3 separate regions of the Homo sapiens genome follow, and all the other regions are reported to be linked to region 3. Evidence: microRNA targets listed by miRTarBase, many of them from high-throughput screens and not tested one by one. Region 3 holds a microRNA gene; each other region holds the end of a gene's coding sequence. Distances are from middle to middle.

Region 1 (5,074 bases), not on the chromosome of region 3:
AAGCCTTATTTTAAAGTCTGAGTCTGTGGTCTTTGATTTTTCTACAACTACATACATAAAAAGGCACCCTATGTCTTCCTGGGTATCTTTTATTTTTTCCCTGTAGACTGCCTGATAGACGCCTTGTGCCAAATGTGTGGTCATATTATTTTTTTCATCCAAACCCAATGGATTTTTGGCAGTTAACCCAATTCTGGTGTGCTCTCCTGTTGTGGGAAAACAGGGTAACAGACACTTTGGCCCAATACATTGCAGGGACTCGGCATCCATCTCAAGCTGGCAAATCCATCTCAACCTTCGAATTTTAATGTTAAGAAATAAGTACAGTGACCACATAGTACTAGAAGCCACAGTTTATTTTTATTTTTATTTTTTTTGAGACAGAGCTTCACTCTTGTTGCCCAGGCTGGAGTGTAATGGCGCGATCTTGGCTCACTGCAACCTCCGCCTCCCGGGTTCAAGCGATTCTCCTGCCTCAGCCTCCTGAGTACCTGGGATTACAGGCATGCACCACCACACCTGGCTAATTTTGTATTTTTTTTAGTAGAGACGGGGTTTCTCCATGTTGGTCAGGCTGGTCTGAAACTCCTGACCTTAGGTGATCCACCCGCTTCGGCCTCCCAAAGTGCTGGGATCACAGGCATGAGCCACAGCACCCGGCCTTAGAAGCCACAGTTTTACCCTTTAGTGTGAAAGAGTTTAATCAGATAATCCTCCTAACATCTGACTGAGCTCTAGAGGGAAGGTAGAGGGGTCTCAATGCAATGGATGGGGTTGAGACTACAGAGGGCCAACTCCAAAAGCGGGGTTCTAGACAGCCGGAGAGCAGCTGGAAGGTCCTTCAAAGGCATATTGGCCTTGGGACAGCGCTTTGTCTTGTGATTTTTTTTTTTTATGAGGCCATCGTTCCATCAGCCAAACGTTCTGCCGAGTGGAGAGGTGGCTATGGGCTTCCAAAATGGTAGCCAAGAGAATACGCGACTATAGGTAGATGGAGTGAGTCTAGTTTTTTTCCCTTTTGCATCTAATTCTTCCTCCTAATTATTTCAGATAATTTGGCAACCTTGTCCCTGGAAATCTGGCACCACTGGGGCTCCTGTCTCTCAGAATTAAAAAAAAAAAAAAATCCAGTCTCTGCACAAGCCTCCCAGTGAGCTGCCACCCAATAGGAGAGACAGATCAAAGCTGCCTTTTCTTAGCAACTGAAGCCTTGCCCAGCCACCGTAGAAGAGATCTCTGCCAAACTCCCTCCTCTTTGAAGAAACACAACAGAGTCCAAGTGAGAAGTAGCTACAGTTTAATACAAACCTGCACCAGAACACAACGTGTCGGGCTGTTTAGTTTTTGCCTCAAACGGTGGCCAAAGCACAGGACCATGTGTCGTCTTGGGGTTGACACAGTCTTAGCACCATGACATTTACAGGGGAGTGGGGAAGTCACCTGGGTGCTGGGGTGCTGGAGGCTCCATCCGACCCCAGGCTGTGCCTGCGCCTCAGCAGCTGGAGGGGGTTTGGGTTTCCTTGTGGTTCTGTGGCTTCTGGGTCAGTATCAGAAAAGCCCTCATCACGACATCGGCTTGACAGAGACCTACTGTGGACTCCTAGCACTACACACACGCACGCACACGCACACACAGTAGCACAATTTTCTGGCAACTTAACCCCACAAACCTAGAGAGCAGCTAAGGCAAGAACAACAGTATTTATTCAGCAAGTACAAGACCAGTTTGAGAGCTGCATTCAGTGCAACCAGAGACCCTTTCGTTCCAACCAGGAGCCAGTGGGGCTGGTGACGAAGCTGGCTGGAGCTCTGCACGGGGCAAGGAGTGCATGGTGGGGGCTGACCGCTCATTTGGCTCCTTGAATCTCTTTCTGATTTCTATCTAGAAGCTCCCGGGCAAGGGTAGGGCCTATGTAGGGACTGGGGGTGGATGAAGCGCATGGCCTACAGTGGACCACTCCAAGACGTGGTTCCCTGGTGCCACGGGTCACACATCTCTCAGGCGGAGGCACTCAGAGAAGGTAAAGCTTTCCTAGCCCAAGCAAGGATGCTCTGCCCAGCTGGCCACCACCGCTGCTGCTGGGCTCTTTGACATCTGCCCAAGGCCCATGACCCAGTGAGGGCTGACAGGGATAGAGATGGTGTGCACTGCACCAGGAGGCGGCGTCATGGTTTCCCCCATCCCTGGTGGCTTTCCCAGGCCTGGGTCCTCACCCCTGTTCCAATGGCTGCCACTTGCCATGAGCCCCTTCGCCACCTCTGCTCCCCGGCTGACCACCTCTGTCCTCTCAGCCCCTGAGTGAGGAAAGGGGGAGTGAAGGGAGAAGTGAGGGTGTGGACGCAGCTCACACTGCACGGTTAGCCCCCAATGGGTGACTAGTCTTGGCTCAAACACAGAATGTGCATGAGGTTGTTTATAAGAAAGATGAGAAAAAAAATCTATCTTCCTGTGCAAAACAAAGCAGGCTGCCTACCAGGAAAGTAAGTCTTCTCATTGGTTAAACTCTCAGGTGGGATCTACAATAGATGTCACCCCAGACCTCCTCTCCACAGGTGGGGTAGATAGCCAAGGTTGGGAGGGTCATCACAGACACTTCTGGGGTCAGAGGACCTGAACTTTCTGGGTCTTAGTTTCCTCATCTGTAAAATGGGAAGAATAATAAGTGCTCCATTGTCATGAGGACTAAGTGAGAGGTCATATACGGAAGTGGTTTGAATACATGAAAAGCACTACAGAGATGTGCAGGGGCTGACTTTTTTGTTTGTCTGTTTTTTGAGATGGAGTCTCACTCTGTCGTCCAGGCTGAAGTGCAGTGGCGTGATCTTGGCTCACTGCAAGCTCCGCCTCCCGGGTTCACGCTATTCTCCTGCCTCAGCCTCCTCAGTAGCTGGGACTACAGGCGCCCGCCACCACGCCTGGGTAATTTTTGTATTTTTAGTAGAGACGGGGTTTCACCGTGTTAGCCAGGATGGTCTCGATCTCCTGACTCCATGATCCACCCGCCTTGGCCTCCCAAAGTGCTGGGATTACAGGCGTGAGCCACCGCACCCGGCCAGGGGCTGACCTTTAACCGAGGGTCCAGAAGCCTCGCGCAAGCCTCGGGGGCTGAAATCACATGTGCAACATGAAGTCACTTCCCACGGGGCAGACCAGGCTTAACAAGGGCAGGCGGCTGGGTCACTTCCCAGATCACTGGAGGTGGAAGGAGACACCCGGCCTCTAGTGTTTCCATGGGAACTTCTGTGGGGCTTTAGAAGCAGGGAGGGCCCACCTGGATGGACAGGGGAGAAGATGAGGCCATGAGCTGGCAAGGGCCTGGTGCCGACCACGGGAGATCACGGCACCTGAGCAGCAATGCGGGTTCGACAGCCAGGTCCTGTGGGCCTGGGGTCTCCCTCTCTGGTGTCTGGCAAGCCCCTCTCCCACTCCTCCTCTCTCAGCAGGCATGAGGCCTCTTGCCAGTCACACAGGAGGAGCGCTGAGTCTCTGTCCAGCAGGAAGAAGTTATAGGAAGCCGTGCGTGTGTGTGTGTGTGTGTGTGTGTGTGTGTGTGTGTGGTGGCAGGTGAAGACAGGGGAAGGCAAGGGGAGTGCTGGGAGTGATCAGGGGCAGAGAGGGGAAAGGACACCTGCTTCCTGAAGGGCTGGCATCTCTGGGGCTAGCATCCCAGGCCCCCTTTTGGAATGTGGGAAACTAGACAAGGAGGGGAGGGGAAGGGGAAAGGGCCAGGGCCTCCCGCAGCCCAGAAGACTGCAGGCGGGGAAAAGAGAGGCCTGTGAGCCCAGCCCCCTCCACCACCCCTGCCCTGTGCTGTCTGGTTGGTGTCAAGTGCAGCGTCTCCTAAGGACCACATCTATTCCTGTCGCTATTCTATGCTAGTGACACAAGCACCGTTATTTTTCACAGGATGCACAAACAAGTCAAACCAAACTACTGCGCAAACCAAACGTGCAAAACAAAACCATTTACACGCGCCTGGCACCAGCCTCGAGCCCCGCCCAGCTACCCTTCTGGGCCTGTGACCCCCCGAGGGTGTGGGCGGGGCGCAGGAGAAGCTGGCGAGGGGCACCAGGAGTCCCAGCCACCCCCATCCCTGCCCCTACACAGGGCCAGAGGTGGGTTGGGGGAGATAGGACGTCCTGGGCATGGCTGGGAAGCTGACATCTGTCTGACTTGGGAAATGTCACCACGGGGCCTAAGGGGTGGGGGAGGAGGCCTTTACTTTGAAACCACATCTGCTAAAGTGCTCTGGGCAACTGGCCAGTCAGCCAGGGGGCAGGGCACTAAAGTCTGGGCTTTCCCAAAGCCAGCGGAGGCAGGAGTGAGAGGAAGGGCTGGCCAGGGCTCTATGCATTGGGCTCTGTGCATAGTGTGGGCTTCCTGGGCCCCAGAAAAGCCCGCCGAGGCCAAGGCAGAAAGGACTACAGCAGGAGGAACACATCTCAAAGTGCCTGTTAGAGTTGGCTCGAAGCACAGTGAATCACTTTGCAGACATAGGGAGGGCTCCGTGGGTCCCGGGGCCCCCCTCGGGTGGTGTGCCACCCAGCCCAGCCTCTCCTGCCCCTGCAGCTTCGGCTGGAGAGTTGCGGGCTGGTGGCGGCGGTGCGTCCTCACTCGGGGGGCTTGGCAATGCCTTTACCAAATGCCACTCGACCTGCCTCCGGGAGGAGCGAGGATCCGAGCTGAAGCTCGCTTTGGAACATGGTCATCGATCTGAGAGCCTGCAGGGAAGGAAGCACAGAGGGTGAGACGGGCTCTTGTGCCTGCTAACAAACCACAGACACCCTCTCCTGGAGGCTCACTGTGTGCATGGCCTGAGTGAATCCTCACAGCCACTCCATCCCATCTTATAGATGAGGAGACAGAGGCTCAGGGAAGTTAAGTGACTTGCCCCATGTTGCAGTGTGTAAGTGGCAGAGCCTGGACTTGGACCCAGGTTTTCCTGATTCAGAGCCGACATTATTAACTGCCCACTGTGCCAACTTCACTGCCCCATGCCTAGGCATACAGTCTCTCGTACATGCAGGTCATTGGCCAGCCTGTTGGCACATGGGCCTTTGTACATATGCCTCA
Region 2 (5,074 bases), 58 Mb from region 3:
TCAGAAATAACAGATTTCCTGAAGTCTGGGACCTATGGTCATTGAAGCTACAGAACATATGGTTTCACATGAAATTTCAAAGTTAGCATCTCCCTAACTTGTTCTTTTCTGGGCCTTCTTTCTTGCAGGCCAATGACAAAGATAAACCCAAGGGGAGAAAGCGAAGCAATGCCAAGAGAAGACGCTACCCAACTAGAAGTAACTCTACCATCTTCCATTCATGAGACTGGCCCTGATACCATCCAAGAACCAGACTATGAGCCAAAGCCTACTCAGGAGCCTGCCCCAGAGCCTGCCCCAGGATCAGAGCCTATGGCAGTGCCTGACCTTGACATCGAGCTGGAGCTGGAGCCAGAAACGCAGTCGGAATTGGAGCCAGAGCCAGAGCCAGAGCCAGAGTCAGAGCCTGGGGTTGTAGTTGAGCCCTTAAGTGAAGATGAAAAGGGAGTGGTTAAGGCATAGGCTGGTGGCCTAAGTACAGCATTAATCATTAAGGAACCCATTACTGCCATTTGGAATTCAAATAACCTAACCAACCTCCACCTCCTCCTTCCATTTTGACCAACCTTCTTCTAACAAGGTGCTCATTCCTACTATGAATCCAGAATAAACACGCCAAGATAACAGCTAAATCAGCAAGGGTTCCTGTATTACCAATATAGAATACTAACAATTTTACTAACACGTAAGCATAACAAATGACAGGGCAAGTGATTTCTAACTTAGTTGAGTTTTGCAACAGTACCTGTGTTGTTATTTCAGAAAATATTATTTCTCTCTTTTTAACTACTCTTTTTTTTTATTTTAGACAGAGTCTTGCTCCGTCGCGCAGGCTGTGATCGTAGTGGTGCGATCTCGGCTCACTGCAACCTCCGCTCCCTGGGTTCAAGCGATTCTCCTGCCTGAGCCTCCTGAGTAGCTGGGACTACAGGCACGTGCCACCACGCCCGGCTAATTTTTTGTATTTTTAGTAGAGATGGGGTTTCACGTTGTTAGCCAGGATGGTCTCCATCTCCTGACCTCATGATCCGCCCACCTTGGCCTCCCAAAATGCTGGGATTACAGGCATGAGCCACTGCGCCCGGCCTCTTTTTAGCTACTCTTATGTTCCACATGCACATATGACAAGGTGGCATTAATTAGATTCAATATTATTTCTAGGAATAGTTCCTCATTCATTTTTATATTGACCACTAAGAAAATAATTCATCAGCATTATCTCATAGATTGGAAAATTTTCTCCAAATACAATAGAGGAGAATATGTAAAGGGTATACATTAATTGGTACGTAGCATTTAAAATCAGGTCTTATAATTAATGCTTCATTCCTCATATTAGATTTCCCAAGAAATCACCCTGGTATCCAATATCTGAGCATGGCAAATTTAAAAAATAACACAATTTCTTGCCTGTAACCCTAGCACTTTGGGAGGCCGAGGCAGGTGGATCACCTGAGGTCAGGAGTTCGAGACCAGCCTGGCCAACATGGCGAAACCCCTTCTCTACTAAAAATACAAAAATTAGCTGGGCGTGGTAGTGCATGCCTGTAATCCCAGCTACTTGGGAGGCTGAGGCAGGAGAATCGCTTGAACCCAGGAGGTGGAGGTTGCAGTGAGCCGAGATTGTGCCACTGCACTCCAACCTGGGTGACAGAGTGAGATTCCATCTGAAAAACAAAAACAAAAACAGAAAACAAACAAACAAAAAACAAAAAATCCCCACAACTTTGTCAAATAATGTACAGGCAAACACTTTCAAATATAATTTCCTTCAGTGAATACAAAATGTTGATATCATAGGTGATGTACAATTTAGTTTTGAATGAGTTATTATGTTATCACTGTGTCTGATGTTATCTACTTTGAAAGGCAGTCCAGAAAAGTGTTCTAAGTGAACTCTTAAGATCTATTTTAGATAATTTCAACTAATTAAATAACCTGTTTTACTGCCTGTACATTCCACATTAATAAAGCGATACCAATCTTATATGAATGCTAATATTACTAAAATGCACTGATATCACTTCTTCTTCCCCTGTTGAAAAGCTTTCTCATGATCATATTTCACCCACATCTCACCTTGAAGAAACTTACAGGTAGACTTACCTTTTCACTTGTGGAATTAATCATATTTAAATCTTACTTTAAGGCTCAATAAATAATACTCATAATGTCTCATTTTAGTGACTCCTAAGGCTAGTCCTTTTATAAACAACTTTTTCTGACATAGCATTTATGTATAATAAACCAGACATTTAAAGTGTACAATTTGATGAGTTTTGACAGAGCACATACCCATGAAACCACCACACCCATCTAGAGAGAAAACATTTCCATCAGCCCAAAATGTTTCTTCATGCCCCTTTGTGCGATCCCACCATTGCCCTGGACCTAGGAAATCACTCATTGTTTTCCATCACTAGAGGTTAACTTTGCCTTTTCTTGGCCCTCATACATATGGGATGATACAGTATGTACTTTTTGTGTCTCACTTCCTTCTAAGGTGAATCCTTTTTAAACAAAGTAGTGAGTTTCTCATTTATCACTTTCAGATTTTCATGTAAAATATTTTCTTAAACTGCAAACTCCTTTCTATATAAATCATAACCATACACAGATTGAGGTAGAGTCTCTGTAGGTTTTAAGGAGAGTTAAAATGGAAATTAACATTACACTTATCTAGAGCCATGGAGAGAAGAGATAGCAAGCGTTTATTTCTGCATTTTCTTCGATGCGTCCATTTTCAGAAAATGTCAGGGATTTCTGATGCATTTATAATTTCATTCATACTAAATATGATAGTATGGTATATGGTGTCTGATGGACACAAGAAGCAAAATAATGAAGGTCTTAAGAATGACCTAATATTTAGAGATTAAAAAGTAAACAACAGTGTAAACATCTCAATTACCAGAATGCCCAAGTAGCTGGAATTCATTTTTCCTTTCCATTTTTATTATAGAGGCAAATCGCAAGAGACTGACATGTAATAGTCAACAATTACACCCCAAAATTTTTGATGGATCAGTGCAGTCCAGGAAAGAAAGCACTACTGGTAGTCTTATAGAGCTCTGTCCTTATTAGCACTGTTCTGTTCAAAATACTGATGAATAGTTGGATCAGTGGCTTGTAACCTTTTTCTGAGGTCATGGAACACCTTGAGAATCTGCTGAAAACTCTAAACTCATCTTCACTGAAAGATGCTTATACACATAAAGTGTCACATATAGTTTCAGGTGAGTTACAGACTCCCTGAATCCAAGATGAAGAAACAGTTACTTAGATCAAAACACACAAAGTACACTTAATAAATTTGTGGATGACTTGCTCCTAGGGGGAATGGCCACTAGGCTATAAGAAAGAATCACGATTCAGAATGATCTTGATAGCTCAAAAGTGGAGTTGAAACCAACAAAATGAATTTGACAGGAATAAATAGAAAAATCTGGATTTAAAAATATGAAGTACATGTTGCCCAGGCAGAAACCCTACATGGGCAAGGTTAGGAAGCACATGAGATTAATCTGAATTCGTACCTTTGGATCTCTCCTTTCAGTGCCATTTCTGGCCTTGTGGCATCTTATTTTCCAAACACCCAGGATTCTCATGCTCCCATTAGCTCAGTGACCCTCTCAGTTCTTCTTCCCTCGGGCAAGACTCATTGCGCAGGACCTAAAGTAGCTGTTCTGTAACCTGTTCTTGTCCAGTGAACATGATCTTTCATCATTCAGTGATCTCATTAGGTTGATAAATGAGTTAGTCTTCTTTGGAGTATTTACCTTTTAAAGAGGACTCAAGCACAGATAATCCTTAATCTGAAGAGTCTAAACAATCCAGAGGAGATATATTTCTGAAAAAAGGAAACTTCTCAGCCCCTCTCAAATCAAACCAGGTGGTTTACCACCCATTCAATCTACTCTGGGCAACTCAGTTTTGATCAACTTTGATCAGAGCTAGAAGAGTGCTCTGAAATAAATAGTATTCAAACTTTTTCAACCCCAGCACACCTGAGTTATAACACATACAGTGGGCCACTCCTAACAATGATGAAGCTGGAGGTGGGAGATGATGTACAATTAAATTATTGGTGGGGGAGACAGGAAGGGGTAAATGTTCTTTTAAAAAGCTGGTTCACTCTTATATATTGCCACCCAGCCCCTAGAGGAGAATCCCTGAGTGCAGAGAAGTAAAATAATCTGCCTGAGATTACGCAAAGTCAAAACTAGATCCACATCATCTGGATTTCAGGGCAATGCTTTTCAACTGCACCAAACTACTAATTTCAGTGAAACAAACCCAAGCTTTAGTAATAAAAAGTTGTTTTACAATGTCTACCTGCTGGAAAACACATCAGTGGGCCTCATAAAAGGTTTAAACTAATCGATAAAGACTCAGTACTCCCACTTGTCTTTGAAACTTTGGTTTAAAAACAAAACAAATAATTCAGAGATGATAATGAGGGCTCCAGGAAACCATAAAAAGATATGCCAATAAAGAAAAACTGTTCCACTACTCACAACACTTCAGAAAGCAAATGTGTGGGGTTTCCACACCAAGTAATTCTCCAATTCTCTGCAGACACTGACTGGGTGTCCTGCAATTTAATTCAATTCTGACACTACCCAGGGTTGGGTCTGACAAGACTGCCCCCAACTTCAGACACATCACAAGTATTGGGTGCCCAGTGTACCCACACTTCTGTTAGACTTGGGTACAAATTGGGGGTTCCCGCAACCTCAAGTTTGATAATTTGCTGTAATGGCTCATAGAACTCAAGGAAACACTGTTGTCCACCAGTTTATTATAAAGGACATTATAAAGGATACAGATGAATGGCCAGCTGAAGAAGTACATAGGGTGAGGTCCAGAAGGGTCCTGAACATAGGAGCTTCTGTTCCCATGGAGTGGGGGTGTACCACTCTTCTGGCATGTGGGTGTGTCACCAACCTAGATGCTCACCAAACCCTGTAGTTTATGAATTTTTATGGAGGCTTCATCACATAGGTATGATCAACTATTAACTCAATCTCCAGCCCCTCTTCCCTCCCTGGAGGATGGGGGGTTGGGGCTGAAA
Region 3 (5,074 bases):
GGTGGGTGGGGTACAGATACATGTTGGAGAATCTACTAAACCTCAGTACAATCACACATAAATACGCTGTGTGCAAGAGAAAGGGCCTGACTTGGTTACATCCACAGAGACATGTCCTCACAGAGTGGTCCCTCTGACCTGGTGCATCACTCACATTCTTTCAGCCTGTGTGCCAGTACTGCCTTGACTCACTGTCCCTTTTCAAGAATTCCAAGGGAAGAAGCCTTGTCTACACTTAAAAGGACAGAGCTTTTGCACATCAACTCTCCCTCCTCTTCCTTCCACAGATACTCAAGTGTCTATTAGACAGCAGGTATTATGTTCATCACCAAGGATATAGCAGGGATCAAAATGGACAGGTTGCTACCCTACATTCTGGTAGGGACTCATAAACACACTATACATAAATGTTGTGGATGAATAGGCCACTGTTCAAAAGAATGAAGTAGATCTATATGTTCCTTGTTACCCAGTCTGCATGCACAAGCATGTGCAGGTTCTGCTCAAGTGAAATTCTCAAATGTCCCCAATCCTTGTACACCAGACACACTCAGAGACATGGCCCTGCATGCAGAGAACCCCACCTACTGAAAGGGTAGGAGATGGAGCCTGTTGTGCTCTCCTCTCTCCCATTCTCAGCGTGCAAGCCAGTGAGCTTCCTTAACTCCCTTATAGATGGGGATTAAATGAGGGAAGTCTTCTTACTGCTACTTTCCTTCTTGCTGCTCTGTATAGGAGAGATCCTTTCATTACTTTTCTGTACAGTCACAGATGAACACACTATATGCGGTGAGCCTTCCCTGTAAACCCATGTGAGCACATGTGCACACACGCACACGTGCACACACACATACTCTGTATGGCTGCTTGGGCCTTCAGTCCTGTTCCCCCTCTTGAATCCTGGTACCTGGATGCAAGTGCTGTGTCAATGCGGTGCACCCAGGCAAGCATTCCACGGCTGAGCCTTTTCTGCATAGAGCGAAGAACACCTGTTTATAATCCCCATCCTTCATTCATTCCCACCTTTAACAAGCAGGGGTGGCGCTCCTGTCATGCACCAGACATGGAGAGACAGGGTGGTCAAGAAAGACACAGAACTCATACTCACATGCCTAGTGAGCATGTTTAAGAGAAGGAACTTCCGTTGCCCACATTGTTCATGCATACGTATGTAGCAGAGAGTGAGTCTTCCCATCATCCCCTCTCCAACCCCCCAACAGTGCTCAGCTAGAGAACTACAAAAGGTGTGTCTCCCCTTACACAGAGCTGCAGCCACAGTGTGCATAGGATAATGAGTGTCATTAGCAGCATCTTCTCACTCATGTCTGGTGTGCAAGGCAATAGGCTTTCTACTTGCTGCTTATGCCACCAGAGCTTGAAGGAAAGTGGCCCTACTTGTCAGTCATCTCACACATGCATATGAAGAAAAGACACTTCACCTTTGTATGGTCATAGGAAAATCACCTGTGAGCCAGAGAGTGCTGTTTCTTTTGTACATACACACAAACACAATGGATTTGAAGATGCTCGAGCCTTCTATTCAGGTTGTCCCTCTCTTTCATTCTTCGTAGTTGGGTACAAATGCTATTCCAGTCCATTGCCTTGTACAAAAATTCAGAGAGGGAATCTCATCCATGTTTAAAAGTGTAGAGTCTTTGCATCACCCCTCTATGTCCCATTATTTCATTTCTTTAAGTTATGTATAGAGCAGTGGTTCTCAGTGTGGTCCCTGGGCCAGCAGCATCTGTATCACCTAGGAGCTTGTTCAAAATGCCAATTCTTGGGCTCATCCCTGACCTACTACACCATAAACCATGGAAATCTGTACTTTACCAAGGCTCTCAACTGATTCTGATGCTCACTTAAGTTTGAGAATCACTGATTTAGTATAAGTGCTAGCTAGGGGCAGTGATAAGCTAGTCAGGTGAAGGGTGGAAGAGAATGAGCTCCTGCATTGCTCATGTACGTTCCCAATGCCGAGTCCATGCAGACTGTGGCAGGGAAGCCATCATTTCATTACTGTCTCCACCTCCTCCATAACCACACATTCAGTGAGCACATGAGGCTAAGTGAACACACAACAAGTACTTTATTAGGGAATAGACTTGGCACTGCTTCTCCAGGCGTGCACCTGACACTTTAATCTCAATCTGTCTCTCTCTCAATCAATCAATCAATCTCTCTCCTCTCTCTCTCTTTCTCTCTTTCTGTCTTTCTTTCTCTCTCCTCCCCCACCCCCCTCCCATGTGCAGAAGAATGAACTGCTCCTTCTCCCATACCCATTGCATATCGGAGTTGTGAATTCTCAAAACACCTCCTGTGTGCATGGATTACAGGAGGGTGAGCCTTGTCATCGTGAATCTTCTGCTGAACAATCCAAGTAGCCCGTGTTTATTGCGCACTTTTGATGTGCCATGAGCTGTGCTGGGAGTACCCTGCTAAATAATGGACAGTGTCTCTCTCCGGGACTTCCTATCTAGTGGAGGTATTAGGTGCCTAGACTTCCCCAGGCCTAGGCAACAGACACAGGTGTGTCAGGAATTGAGCCTTCTCATTCTCTTATGAATACACATGCTCACATTGTGCATGCATGTGCACACACACATGTGTAAGTGTAGAAACATTTCTGTACAAAGCTGAAAGGAAGGAGCCTTATTATCTAAACTTGCCTGCAAGTTTCCTTGCCACACACACTCAGATGCATGCCTGGTGTGCAGGTGCCTGGACTTTGATTTTTGCTTGCCCTCTCCTAGCCTTGCAGCCTAGGCACAAGTGCTGTCTTAGCAGTGCAATGGGCTTGTGCAAGGATACCAGCTTGTGAGCCTTGCCTATGTGTAGGACAGAGCCTGTCCATCCCTTCTCTTTCCTTTGTTCATTCTTTCAGTCAGTCATTTGTGTGTGCATGTTTTTGGTCCATTCATTTATTCATCCCTTTAACAAATTTACTGAATTCCTGCTGTTTGGGAATGCCACAGTAAACTAACCTGTCAGAGATGCCGACCTTACTGTCTAGCAGGCTCATGGAGAATAAGCATCCTCATGTCATCCAACTTCCTGTGAATACATGGGCTCAGGGTGCCAGAAATCAGGCTTTTCTTTATTCCCTCCCACAGACATGGGTACCTGTGCAAATATATGTGGTGTGCACATCCTGAGCCTGCTGCTCTGCTTCCCCTTGTATCCTTGCCACCTAAATGTGCATGCTGTCTCAGTGCAGCACCTATTCCAGGACTCTCAGAGGGGCCTTTTTCTGCCCATAGACAGACAAAGTGCCTGTGAGTCACACTTCCTCCTCCCTCTCCTTCCCCTCTACCTCCCTTTCACAAGTATTGAGCACTTAGTACATGCTAACGCTGTGCTGCCAGGGCAGTGGGCATATGGTATCACACAAGATGGACTTGGTTCTTGCCTCAAAGAATATGTGTAGGAGACTTGACTTTTTGTCACCTAATATTCCTGCACGTGCTGAGTTAGTGTGGGCCACAACATGGGACTTCTTATTGACACCCTCTCCCAACATATACACAATGCAAGACTCTCATTCCTGTTCTCACACAGAGCTGTGTAACAGAGAACCTTCTCTGCTTCGAGCACGGCAGGTGCCCAAGCCTTCTGCCCTGCTCCCCCTCTCTAATCCTTGCTATCTGGGTGCTAGTGCTGGCTCAATGCAATGCACCTGGGCAAGGATTCAGAGAGGGGGAGCTCAACTGTACCAAGAAGGACAGAGAGCCTAGACATCACCCCTCCCACCCTCCCCTGTCATAGTTTTTGAGTGATGGGTGTGTGTTGGGGAAGCACAGAACAGAATAGTTAGGGACTTCAGGTGCTCTGGTGGGCTTGTCTGTGTATTAGAATAAATGTCCTTATTAAATAATGTCCATGTATGCAGGTATCCAGAGTGAGACAGTGAGCTTTCTCTGTGTTCCCCACCTGCTGTCCACACACAGGGTGGTGGGCGGGAACCAGAGCCTTCTGATTTGCTCCCTCACTTCCTTCCAACCTAGATGTGAGTGCTGTCTCAAGTATTAAGCCAAGGATTCAATGAGATGGAGCCTTGCCTACCTATATGTATATATATGGACTGAGTGCATATATGTCTCTTTTCTTGCCTTCCTATATCTTGAGTTTCTAGAGTGTGACAGATACTCTTTTTAGTGTTAAGGATGCAGTGACAAACGAGAGTCAAAATCACTGGATGTGCTCTCTGATGGGCAGCTTTAGAAGAAAAATTCAGACGGGCACAAATGATGGGGGCCAAAGAGAGAGTCTTCCTATTCCCCCCACTCTGTCCCCTCTGAGGACAGGGAGATGCACACATTCATGAAGATTTACACTTACAGAATGTATAGGAGTTTGAGCTTATAAGCTGCCCTTTATCTTCCAGGACATCCTGAGTAGAACTGTGAGCTGCCTTTAGATGTCTATTACAGACTCTTCTTGAATTAGAGGGGGTGAAGAGCAAGGGACCCTTCTTATTGCTGATCTTGTATGCACCCCACACAATATGGAAATGAGAACAGCCTATATCTTTATATTACCTTACTTTAGTCAAATAGAGATGGACTATACATGTCTCTGTTTCAGTCTATCGCTCTCTCTGTCCGTCTCTCCATCTCTCTCTCTCTCTCACCTAGGGAGTACAGGTGCCCATGATCTGATTCACTCCCCTCCTCCCATCCTTAGCGCCTGAGCCTGAGTGCTTTCTACTGTGACCTCAGCAGTATTCTTCAGTTGTTACTCTCTTCTTAGCTAAGCTGATCTATTCATTCCTCCCCATCTTATCATTTTTGCTCATTGCCCATTGCAAATTTATAGTGTTCAGGTCAGCGTAGCAATACAGTATTATAAATAGTGGTGACAGAGACAGAAAGAGACACACACTCCATTTCAGTCCTCAAGTTCTTAAACATTTGGGACTTATAGATTCTGATCCTTGGTCCTTCTTCTCTCCCAGATTCTCCCAATCTAACCTGCAGTAAAGATTCAGGTTATTTAATATGTGCTCCTTATCTTTTGTATACTCTAAAATCTCATTTTGGTTACTGCTCAGCCTTAGTCTTATTTTATCAGACTT

The links. Region 3 holds the annotated microRNA hsa-miR-660-3p (ACCUCCUGUGUGCAUGGAUUA, at 2,313-2,333, shown strand). A microRNA usually pairs through its seed, bases 2 to 8, with sites in the 3' UTR of a target mRNA and lowers its output. Matches are read on the target gene's strand: a 7mer-m8 pairs with bases 2 to 8, a 7mer-A1 pairs with bases 2 to 7 and ends in A, and an 8mer does both.
Region 1: the mRNA of DPYSL5 is a reported target of hsa-miR-660-3p. Seed matches in the 3' UTR shown: 7mer-A1 at 3,428-3,434.
Region 2: the mRNA of VSIG1 is a reported target of hsa-miR-660-3p. Seed matches in the 3' UTR shown: 7mer-m8 at 1,595-1,601.

What each region holds. Positions count from the first base shown.
Region 1 is chr2:26,946,558-26,951,631 of GRCh38, reverse strand. DPYSL5 (dihydropyrimidinase like 5) reads right to left here. Exons shown (of 13, transcript NM_020134.4): 13 at 1,281-4,722. The coding sequence ends at 4,637. It overlaps LOC124905979 (a long non-coding RNA gene), which reads left to right. Exons shown (of 3, transcript XR_007086251.1): 3 at 1,051-1,117. Among named protein-coding and RNA genes, the nearest start is that of MAPRE3, 22 kb to the left of the region's middle. RefSeq lists an enhancer at 1,563-2,063.
Region 2 is chrX:108,076,920-108,081,993 of GRCh38, forward strand. VSIG1 (V-set and immunoglobulin domain containing 1) reads left to right here. Exons shown (of 7, transcript NM_182607.5): 7 at 129-2,265. The coding sequence ends at 462. Among named protein-coding and RNA genes, the nearest start is that of PSMD10, 12 kb to the right of the region's middle.
Region 3 is chrX:50,010,980-50,016,053 of GRCh38, forward strand. It overlaps MIR660 (microRNA 660), which reads left to right and starts at 2,262; the gene lies at 2,262-2,358. The region is part of intron 3 of CLCN5 (chloride voltage-gated channel 5); the gene reads left to right. It overlaps MIR502 (microRNA 502), which reads left to right and starts at 3,619; the gene lies at 3,619-3,704.